Regions from separate parts of the Homo sapiens genome. Here regions 1 and 3 are each linked to region 2. The links come from fine-mapping of genetic effects on gene expression. A gene starts in region 2. Each other region holds a variant in brackets. All regions are shown on one strand. Distances are from middle to middle.

The links.
Region 1: its variant is fine-mapped to the expression of ZNF597 in whole blood (TOPMed, PIP above 0.99).
Region 3: its variant is fine-mapped to the expression of ZNF597 in blood mononuclear cells (TOPMed, PIP above 0.99).

Annotation. Positions count from the first base shown.
Region 1 is chr16:3,411,869-3,414,712 of GRCh38, reverse strand. No RefSeq gene overlaps it. Among named protein-coding and RNA genes, the nearest start is that of ZNF174, 12 kb to the right of the region's middle. The variant C/A (reference allele first, on the strand shown) is at 1,170.
Region 2 is chr16:3,441,972-3,444,815 of GRCh38, reverse strand. It overlaps ZNF597 (zinc finger protein 597), which reads left to right and starts at 1,312. Exons shown (of 4, transcript NM_152457.3): 1 at 1,312-1,456; 2 at 1,610-1,695. The coding sequence starts at 1,663. It overlaps NAA60 (N-alpha-acetyltransferase 60, NatF catalytic subunit), which reads right to left and starts at 1,136. Exons shown (of 8, transcript NM_001083601.3): 1 at 979-1,136. RefSeq lists an enhancer at 903-1,052.
Region 3 is chr16:3,399,234-3,401,733 of GRCh38, reverse strand. It overlaps ZSCAN32 (zinc finger and SCAN domain containing 32), which reads left to right and starts at 730. Exons shown (of 7, transcript NM_001284527.2): 1 at 730-789. It overlaps ZNF174 (zinc finger protein 174), which reads right to left and starts at 519. Exons shown (of 3, transcript NM_003450.3): 1 at 1-519. LOC105371059 (a long non-coding RNA gene) reads right to left here. Exons shown (of 4, transcript XR_007064949.1): 3 at 2,208-2,500; 4 at 2,065-2,103. RefSeq lists silencers at 173-392, 943-1,092 and an enhancer at 470-969. The variant C/A (reference allele first, on the strand shown) is at 1,335.

The sequences.
Region 1 (2,844 bases), 30 kb after region 2:
TAGCTCACTGCAACTTCCGCCTCCTGGGTTCAAGCAATTCTCCTGCCTCAGCCTCCCTGAGTAGCTGGGACTATAAGCGCACGCCACCACGCCCAGCTAATTTTTTTTTTTTTTTTTTTTTTTTTTTTTTTATATTTTTGTTAGAGACGAGGTTTCACCATGTAGGCCAGGCTGGTCTCGAACTCTTGACCTCAGGTGATCCGCCCACCTCAGCCTCCCAAAGTACTGGGATTACAGGCGTGAACCACCGCGCCCGGCCTGGAGACTGGGCTTTCTAAGAGACCATGAGCATCGTCCGGGTTCACCATATTGCCTCCAGCCCCTATTGGTGCCTGGCGTGTTGTGGACAGTCAATAAATATTTGTCATTTGCGTGAACAAGCTTAATGAATGAACCCCAGGACACCCTTTGAGGTTCAACAGTCTCAGGCAAGCAACAGCTCAGCAGTACGTGGAGCCCACGAAAACCACAATTCCCAGAGGGCTCCGTGGCTGCCCGGCCTCCTCTTCACCCTGACAGCTGTGCCAGGCAATGGAAGGTGAGAATTCCTCGGGCTGGGCGCCAAGCAGCCCACTCAGAGGGGACTCTTTCAGGTATTTCCTGTCGAGGCCCCGCCCCTCACCCTAGGAGCGTTCTATCCTCCGGTGGCGATTTCCGGAAAAGCCTACCTGGAACATCCGGCCACAGGGCTCGCTCAGCTGCAGGGTCCTTACCTGTCTATTCCTGCCCGTTGTCCCTGGGTGACCCCGGGAATGGGGGCATGTGACTCCCCGGGGGACCGCGTTCCCTCCCTCCCAGCACGTCCCAGGCCCAGAGGAGGAGGCGGCTTCACCCTGGCGGGGGCTTGCCCTCAAACCTATCGGGCACTGACCCTTGGAGGAGGGCTCCCGGGTGCAGTGTTGAGGCGGGAAGGCAGAGATCTGCATTGAGAGGGTTTCGTTGCGATCTGCATTGAGAGGGCAACTGCAGCCAAGTAGAGCCATGTTTTGCTTTGAGAAGGTTTAAGAGGAATTCATCTAGCCAGTGAGGTCAGGGAGTCACTGTCTCACTGCTGTTTTCTTTTTTTTGAGACGGTGTTTCACTCTTGTGACTTCCAGTCTCTGGTTGCAAATATAAGGAGCTTGAAAGTTGTCACTCCATTCTAATGACAAATAAAAAGCTGAACAACC[C/A]GAAAAACCCAACAATTCTTCTGTAAGAGAAGTGAGGTCACAGGGCAAACAGCCACCCCAAAATTTGTAGAGACAGACTGGTGGATACGGAGAATCACAATCTATTGGAGCAGCTGAGGTCCTCTGGCAGACCATGCATGGGTACGGGGGCTGAGAGGAAACTTACATCTGAGTACAGGACCTTGGGTTCTTGTAGCCATTGGACCCTTCCTGGTCCTCTTGGCCTGGAGTTGAGCCTTATACCAAAGGAAGGCTATGCTTGGGGATGGTCTGTTGCCCAGGCTGGAGTGCAATGGTGCGATCTCAGCTCACTGCAACCTCTACCTTCCTTCAGCCTCGCCTCCCGGGTTCAAGAGATTCTCATGCCTCAGCCTCGTGAGTAGCTGGGACTACAGGCGCACACCACCACACGCGGCTAATTCTTTTTTTTTTTTTTTTTTTTGGTACAGACAGGATTTCACCATGTTGGCCAGGCTGGTTTTGAACTCCTGGCCTCAAATGATCCGCCTGCCTCGGCCTCCCAAAGTCCTGGGATTGCAGGTGTGAGCCACTGCGCCTGACCCCAACCCTTATAATTAAGTAGAAATCTATGGTCCTTCTCTTTTAGGAGAGATGCTCTTTGACTAACTTGATTCAAGATGGATATGTGCGGTGGGTTGAGTCATGGCACCCCAAATGTGTCCACATCCTAATACTTGGAACCCATTAAGTTTACCTTATATGGCAAAAGGGGCTTTGCAGATGTTATTAAGTTAAGGATCTTGAGATAGGGAGATTATTCTGGATTATGCCGGTGGGCCCAACATCATAACGGTCCTTATACAAGGCAAGCAGGAAGGTCATAGTCAGAGGAGAATGCGGTGGAATGAGATTGGAGTGATGCACTTTGAGGGTGGAGGCCAAAGGATGTGGGTGGCTGTTAGAAGCTGAAAAAGTCAAGGCAAGAGATTCACCCCTCAGAGCCTTCAGAGGAACCAGCCTTGCCGACAGCTTGATTTTGGCTGAGTGAAATCAATTTCAGATTTCTGACCTCTAGAACGATAAGGTTGTGGGTTTTTTTTTTTTTTTTTTTTTTTTTTTTTTGAGACGGAGTCTTGCTCTGTAGCCCAGGCTCTGGAGTGCAGTGGTGCAAACTCGGCTCACTGCAAGCTCCACCTCCTGGGTTCACGCCACTCTCCTGCCTCAGCCTCCTGAGTAGCTGGGACTACAGGTGCCTGCCACCACGCCCAGCTAATTTTTTTTGTATTTTTAGTAGAGACGGGGTTTCACTGTGTTAGCCAGGATGGTCTCGATCTTCTGACCTCGTGATCCACCCACCTCGGCCTCCCAAAGTGCTGGGATTACAGGCGTGAGCCACCGTGCCCGGCGGTTTTTTTGCTTTTTGTGTTTTTTTGTTTGTTTTTGTTTTTTGAGTCCAAGTTTCACTCTTGCTGCCCAGGCTGGAGTGCAGTGGCACAATCTCGGCCCACTGCAGCCTCTGCCTCCCATGTTCAAGTGATTCTTCTGCCTCAGCCTCCCGAGTAGCTGGGATTATAGGCGTGCACCACCACATCCGGTTAATTTTTGTATTTTTAGTAGAGACAGGCTTTCACCATATTGGCCAGGCTGATCTTGAACTTCTGACCTCAGGTGAACTTTTCACAACCTTGGCCTCCCAAAGTGCTGGGATTACAGG
Region 2 (2,844 bases):
TGACACAATACATGTCTGTATATTTTACCTGGATTCTATTGTCAACGTTACCAACATGCTTAGGGTGGCAGAGAAGCACTGGGACCTTGATGTTGTCACTGGGCCACCGAATTAACCAACCTGTAACTGCTCTTTGAACATCCTTTCGGTGGGTTTTCTGTTACTTGTAGCTGAAACTATCCTATCAGATATTCCACAAAATCACATTACCTAAGTTGTCAAATCTCCTAATATTGTTTTAATAACCATGCAGCCATTCATTAAGCTTTTAGATACAGGAATGTGCCTGGCACTGGAATAAGGAAATATGTTGAGACTTTTCAGGCTTTTCTATCAAGGTACCTATCATTTTCGTCTTTTTTTTTCCCCAAACACCTTTATAAACTGGCAATTTCTTTCACTTACATTATCTTATAATCTTTGAAATTACCCTCTGAGTTAGCCCAGAGAGGCACTCTGAGCTGTTTGCAGCTGAGGAAAGCAAAGTTGTAAACTGGCCAAGATTACCAACCAATCAGTGGCAGAGCTTGGGGAGGAGCTCAATTTTCCAATTCCAAATGCCTACACCAGGGCACTCCCTCCTCCCCCAGCACACAATAGGAAATGACTGGCTCTAGGGTAGGCTGCATGTGAGGTATCCGGGGGCGAACAACGTCCTGCGACGCTAACCTATGGCTCTATTCTCGCGTGGGATCCTGTGACTAGGAAGCTGAAGCAGCTCGCTTAGGCTGCAGCTGCGGGTACAATACGTAATGCCTCTATAACACTTTGAGTCAGAGTCCAGCAACCTGGCCTACACCGATGTGAACGTTGTGAACGTACACAAAGATACTCCTTCATGTTCCACGGCCCCACCATCCGCTCAAGACACAAAGGACAGCTCAAGCCCAGGCTAGGCCCGAACCCCCGCCCTCTCAATCACCTTGCTCTGGCCAGACCGAAATTTCAGGCCTACAGGGCACTGTTGGCCGAACCCACATTTTGTTACCGATTTTCTTTCGAGTTCCGGTGTCTCCCAGTCTTCTTTCTGTCCTTCTTCTCGGAAACATTACGTCCCCCTGGGGTCACCCTAAGACTCTACTTCAGCAGGCAAACAGGCCCGGAGCTCACGGAGGAGACCCCGCCAGCGGAAGCGGAAATGGTTGCTTAGAGAAAAGGAGGAAAACTACCTCTCGCAGCTGCCCAGTGGCTACAGGTCCTCGGTTAAGGTGTTCAATTGGTCAACACAAAAGAAGGACTTCCCCTTCGGGAGAACTTCGACCAATCAAAGGGCAGGATGGCGGAGAGGGCTGAGGGCGGGTCGCTTCCGGCGGCTTTTCCCGCAGCTCCTGCGTAAAGGAGCATGAGAGCGTGGGAGTTTTGCAGTGGCCGTGGCGTTCTTCGTCGCGTCTCGGTCGGGCGTCGCTTTCTGCAGCTCCTGTCAGGGAGCGCGAGGCCTGTTATTAACCGCGGAGCGGTAAGTGGGCCCCTTTCGAGGCCGGGCCAAGAGGAGGAGCAGTCGGCGTAGGTTTTTAAGGGGGGGTTCGGAGGGAATCGAGGGAGGCTAGGGGTAGTGGAGGAACTTGGCAGCGGAATTGGTCCCTTTAAGAACTGTTCTCTCCCCCCGCAGCTTTGTCACGAAGTCCCTGTGGCGTCTTGAAGAAGGCATTCCCCACCCGCCAAATGGCGTCCATGCCCCCGACGCCCGAGGCCCAGGTGAGTCGAGGTACCTTTTTCGTCCAAGTTTATTGCTGCTTTCGGTCTCTGCCTGACCCCCTCCTTTGGAGGAGAGTTGGGCATGCCTGTTGTGGTAGGAGTGCTCCTGAGCCCCAAATAGCCCTTTGACCAAGTGTTCTTCGTTCCAAGACCACACACATAATGGTTTACCAACTTCCTTCTTTCAGAACTACCAACTGGGAGCAGGGACCTGTGGAGGAATCTCTGAGAGAGTTTCTCAATGTCTTATCTGTTTGTTTTGTTTTGTTTGGAGATAGGGTCTGGCCTTGTCGCTGGAGTGTTGCTTGTCTGGCTGGAGTGCAGTGCTGATATCATAGCTCCGTCTGGAACTCAGGGAATCCTTACGCCTCAGCCTCTCGAGTATCTGAGAGGCGCGCATACCACAGTGTCTGGCTACTTTTAAAAGTTCTTTTTTTTTTTTTTTTGATACAGAGTCTCGCTCTGTCGCCCAGGCTGGAGTGCAGTGGCGCGATCTCGGCTCACTGCAAGCTCCGCCTCCCGGGTTCATGCCATTCTCCTGCCTCAGCCTCCCGAGTAGATGGGACTACAGGCGCCTGCCGCCACGCCCTGCTAATTTTTTGTATTTTTAGTAGAGACGGGGTTTCACCGTGTTAGCCAGGATGGTCTCAATCTCCTGACCTTGTGATCCGCCCGCCTCGGTCTCCCAAAGTGCTGGAATTACAGGTGTGAGCCACTGCGCCCGGCCTAAAACTTCTTTATGGAGATGGAGTCTTGCTGCTTTGCCAAGGAACTCCTGGCCTTCAGCTATCCTCCCACCTCGGCTCCCCAAAGTGCTAGGATTAAAAGTGACTTTCTGGAATGGTTCCCAAAATTACAGATTTGGTACTTCTCCAATTTGAATGAATTTTTAAATTAAGCACATTTCTAGACTCCACACTCGTTGAGTAATAATAAATCCCAAGTGATTAATTTATCACACCGTTAGAGAAGGTGGGGTAGGCCTGGATGAAGTGCTGGAGTGAGCTTAGCAATGAGTGTCATGGGGACGAGAGGAAATAGCAAAGGGAAGGATGTTGGGAGAATCCTGTAACCTTTATCTCTTTATGATTCTTCCTGGGCTGCCCAACTTTCTCCTTTTCTTTTCTTTTTTTTTTTTTTTTTGAGACA
Region 3 (2,500 bases), 43 kb after region 2:
TCTGGGGAAAAAATACTTCTTTTATTTCAGTAGCAAGCACACAGGTCTCGGATTTAATGAGCAATACGCTCTAACCGGCGGGTGGAGCGGAATCCCTAGGAAAAGTTCAAGCTGTCGCAGGTAGCTTGCCCCAACTCTCCCGCATCCTGGCGGAAACCGACCGGGTGCATGTCGCCGGGTGCTAAACGGTAGAGCTAAGCGAGGCCACAGCGCCAGCCGGGGGTGTGAGGTAGCGAACAGCCTCCTGCACGCGAGCAAAGCGGCTGCTCGCTGCCGAGGCGCCGCAGGCCCAGTGGCTCCGGCCTCCAGGGCGGCCCCGCGGCCCAGCCAGCCCCAGGCCTGGCGAAGCTGCCGCAACCCGATGCGCAGCTGAACTCCACGCCCGGTGTGAGCTCGGACTGGCGACTGCGACACCGGTACCCCGAACAGCCCGGCGCCCCGCACCCACCTGCAGCCGACTCACCTCTCCGGGAACCCAAGACCGAGGGACTTAGGACCCGACACCGGCGAGCACGGGCTGGGGGCGGGGCCGATGCCACTCGCTGCGGAGACGCCCACTAGCTGCTGAGGACAACTACTGACAGGGCCCGCCTCCTGCCAAGGGCATTCTCTACCGTCTATTGGTTGCTGCGCCTGTCAATACCGTCGCAGTGCATCCCGGGAGCTGCAGTCCGGCAATTCGGCTTGCGGGCCTGCGCAGGGGCGTGCGTAATGGGCGGAGCGAATCGCGCCGCTGACTTCCGGCCCGGAGGCTGAGGGAGTTTGTGGAGTCGCGAGTGCTGGTGTCCGGTGAGTTCTCCGCTTCCTTGCGGCCGGCGGGATTAGCCGCTGGGCCCTGCGACGGCCGAGGAGCCCCTCCCCGCTGGGAGTCTTCTCCGAGGCGTTCGGGTCCGGCCCCGATGGGCGTCTCCTTGGGACAGGCAGCCTCCCTCAGGCCGGGCGTCCCCAGACGCGCCGCGATCACCGTGCCCCGCTCCCACCGTGCGGATCACCCCGAGCCTGAGCGCCGGCGCCCCGGGACCCCCTGGCCTTGACCCTGCTCATCTCGTCCCTGTCTCGCCCACTCCCTACTCATCCACAGTGCCTAGCCCTGGCACCGAGTGCGTTCTGAGTACTCAATAAATAGTTAACTAAGTGAAAAACCTATCAACCTGGCTCCCCATCCTCATGCTACATTTTTTTCCGAGTGTTTGGGCCATCGCTAGAGTGAAGTAAAATTTTCAGAGAACAGCATTTTAAAATTTAACGATGAGTGGGAGGTAAGGGGTCAAAAGGGGTCAAGAAGGGTGCAGGTTCCGCCTTCTGCATGAAGTTAGAAGAGCTTTTATTAAATT[C/A]TTCTTCAGCCAGGTAAGGCACAGGATGAACATAATGAAGGCAAGGGGTGCTGGTTCTAGTCCTGGCCTTGCTGCCTAGGAGCTGTGCTGTGTGATGCTTTAGGCAAGATACTTCATCGCTCTCAGTTTCTTTTTGGCTAGAAAGCAGTGCTAACAATAATAATGCCCTTGATTTCTCTATCTCTAGAAGCACTGAAATGTAAAGAGAATTTAAGTGAAGGCAGTTCAAGTTCCTTGAGAAAAGGGAACCCAAATCCATTTTTAAAATATAAAAAAATTTCTTTAATTTTTAAAAAACATTTACCATCATAACCATTTTTAAGTGTACAGCTCAGTAGTCCTGAGTATATTCATCTTGTTGTGCATGCTGGATCCATTTTAATACCACATGGTGAGGGTGTATCAGCCCCTGGAGAAAATGTAAATTACGATCTGCTTTAATCTGTGTTTTAAGTAGATAAAAACCAACACAAACTCATTAAAAAAGACTGCCTTCGCGGGTGCAGTGGCTCACACCTGTAATCCCAGCACTTTGGGAGGCCAAGGTGGGAGGATCACTTGAGCACAGGAGTTTGAGACCAGCCTGGGCAACATAGTGAAACTCCACCTCTACAAAAAATACAAAAGTTAGCTTCTATTTAAAATTATTTTTAAGGTCGGGCATGGTGGCTTATACTTGTAATCCTAACACTTTGGGAGGTTGAGGTGGGAGGATTGCTTGAGTTCAGGAGTTTGAGACCAGCCTGGGCAACAGAGTGAGACTCCATCTCTAAAGATAAAAAAACAAATAAAATTATTTTTAAAAGTTATTTATTAATTTTAAATTATATAAAACTATTTTTAAAATTAACTCTTAAAAAAATATTGCCTTACATAAACTGGCCTTGGAGATCCAAACATGTTGTCAAGACTTGAGTATATTGTCCTCTTGTAAACAGGCTCACTCCTGTGATGGAAGAGTGGAGTAGAGAGTGGGACATAGTTGGAGACAACTCTGATCTTACATTTGCCCAATTTACCAATTCCTAGAAAATGAAGAGCTTTCCCTACCTCTCATGTAAAATCTGAGAAAAGAATTTTGATAGGCCTAGCTGTGTGTCATATGCCCACTTCTGGGGAAGTGGGTATTGTAATTAATATCCCCACCAGAACCAATGAGAGGGACT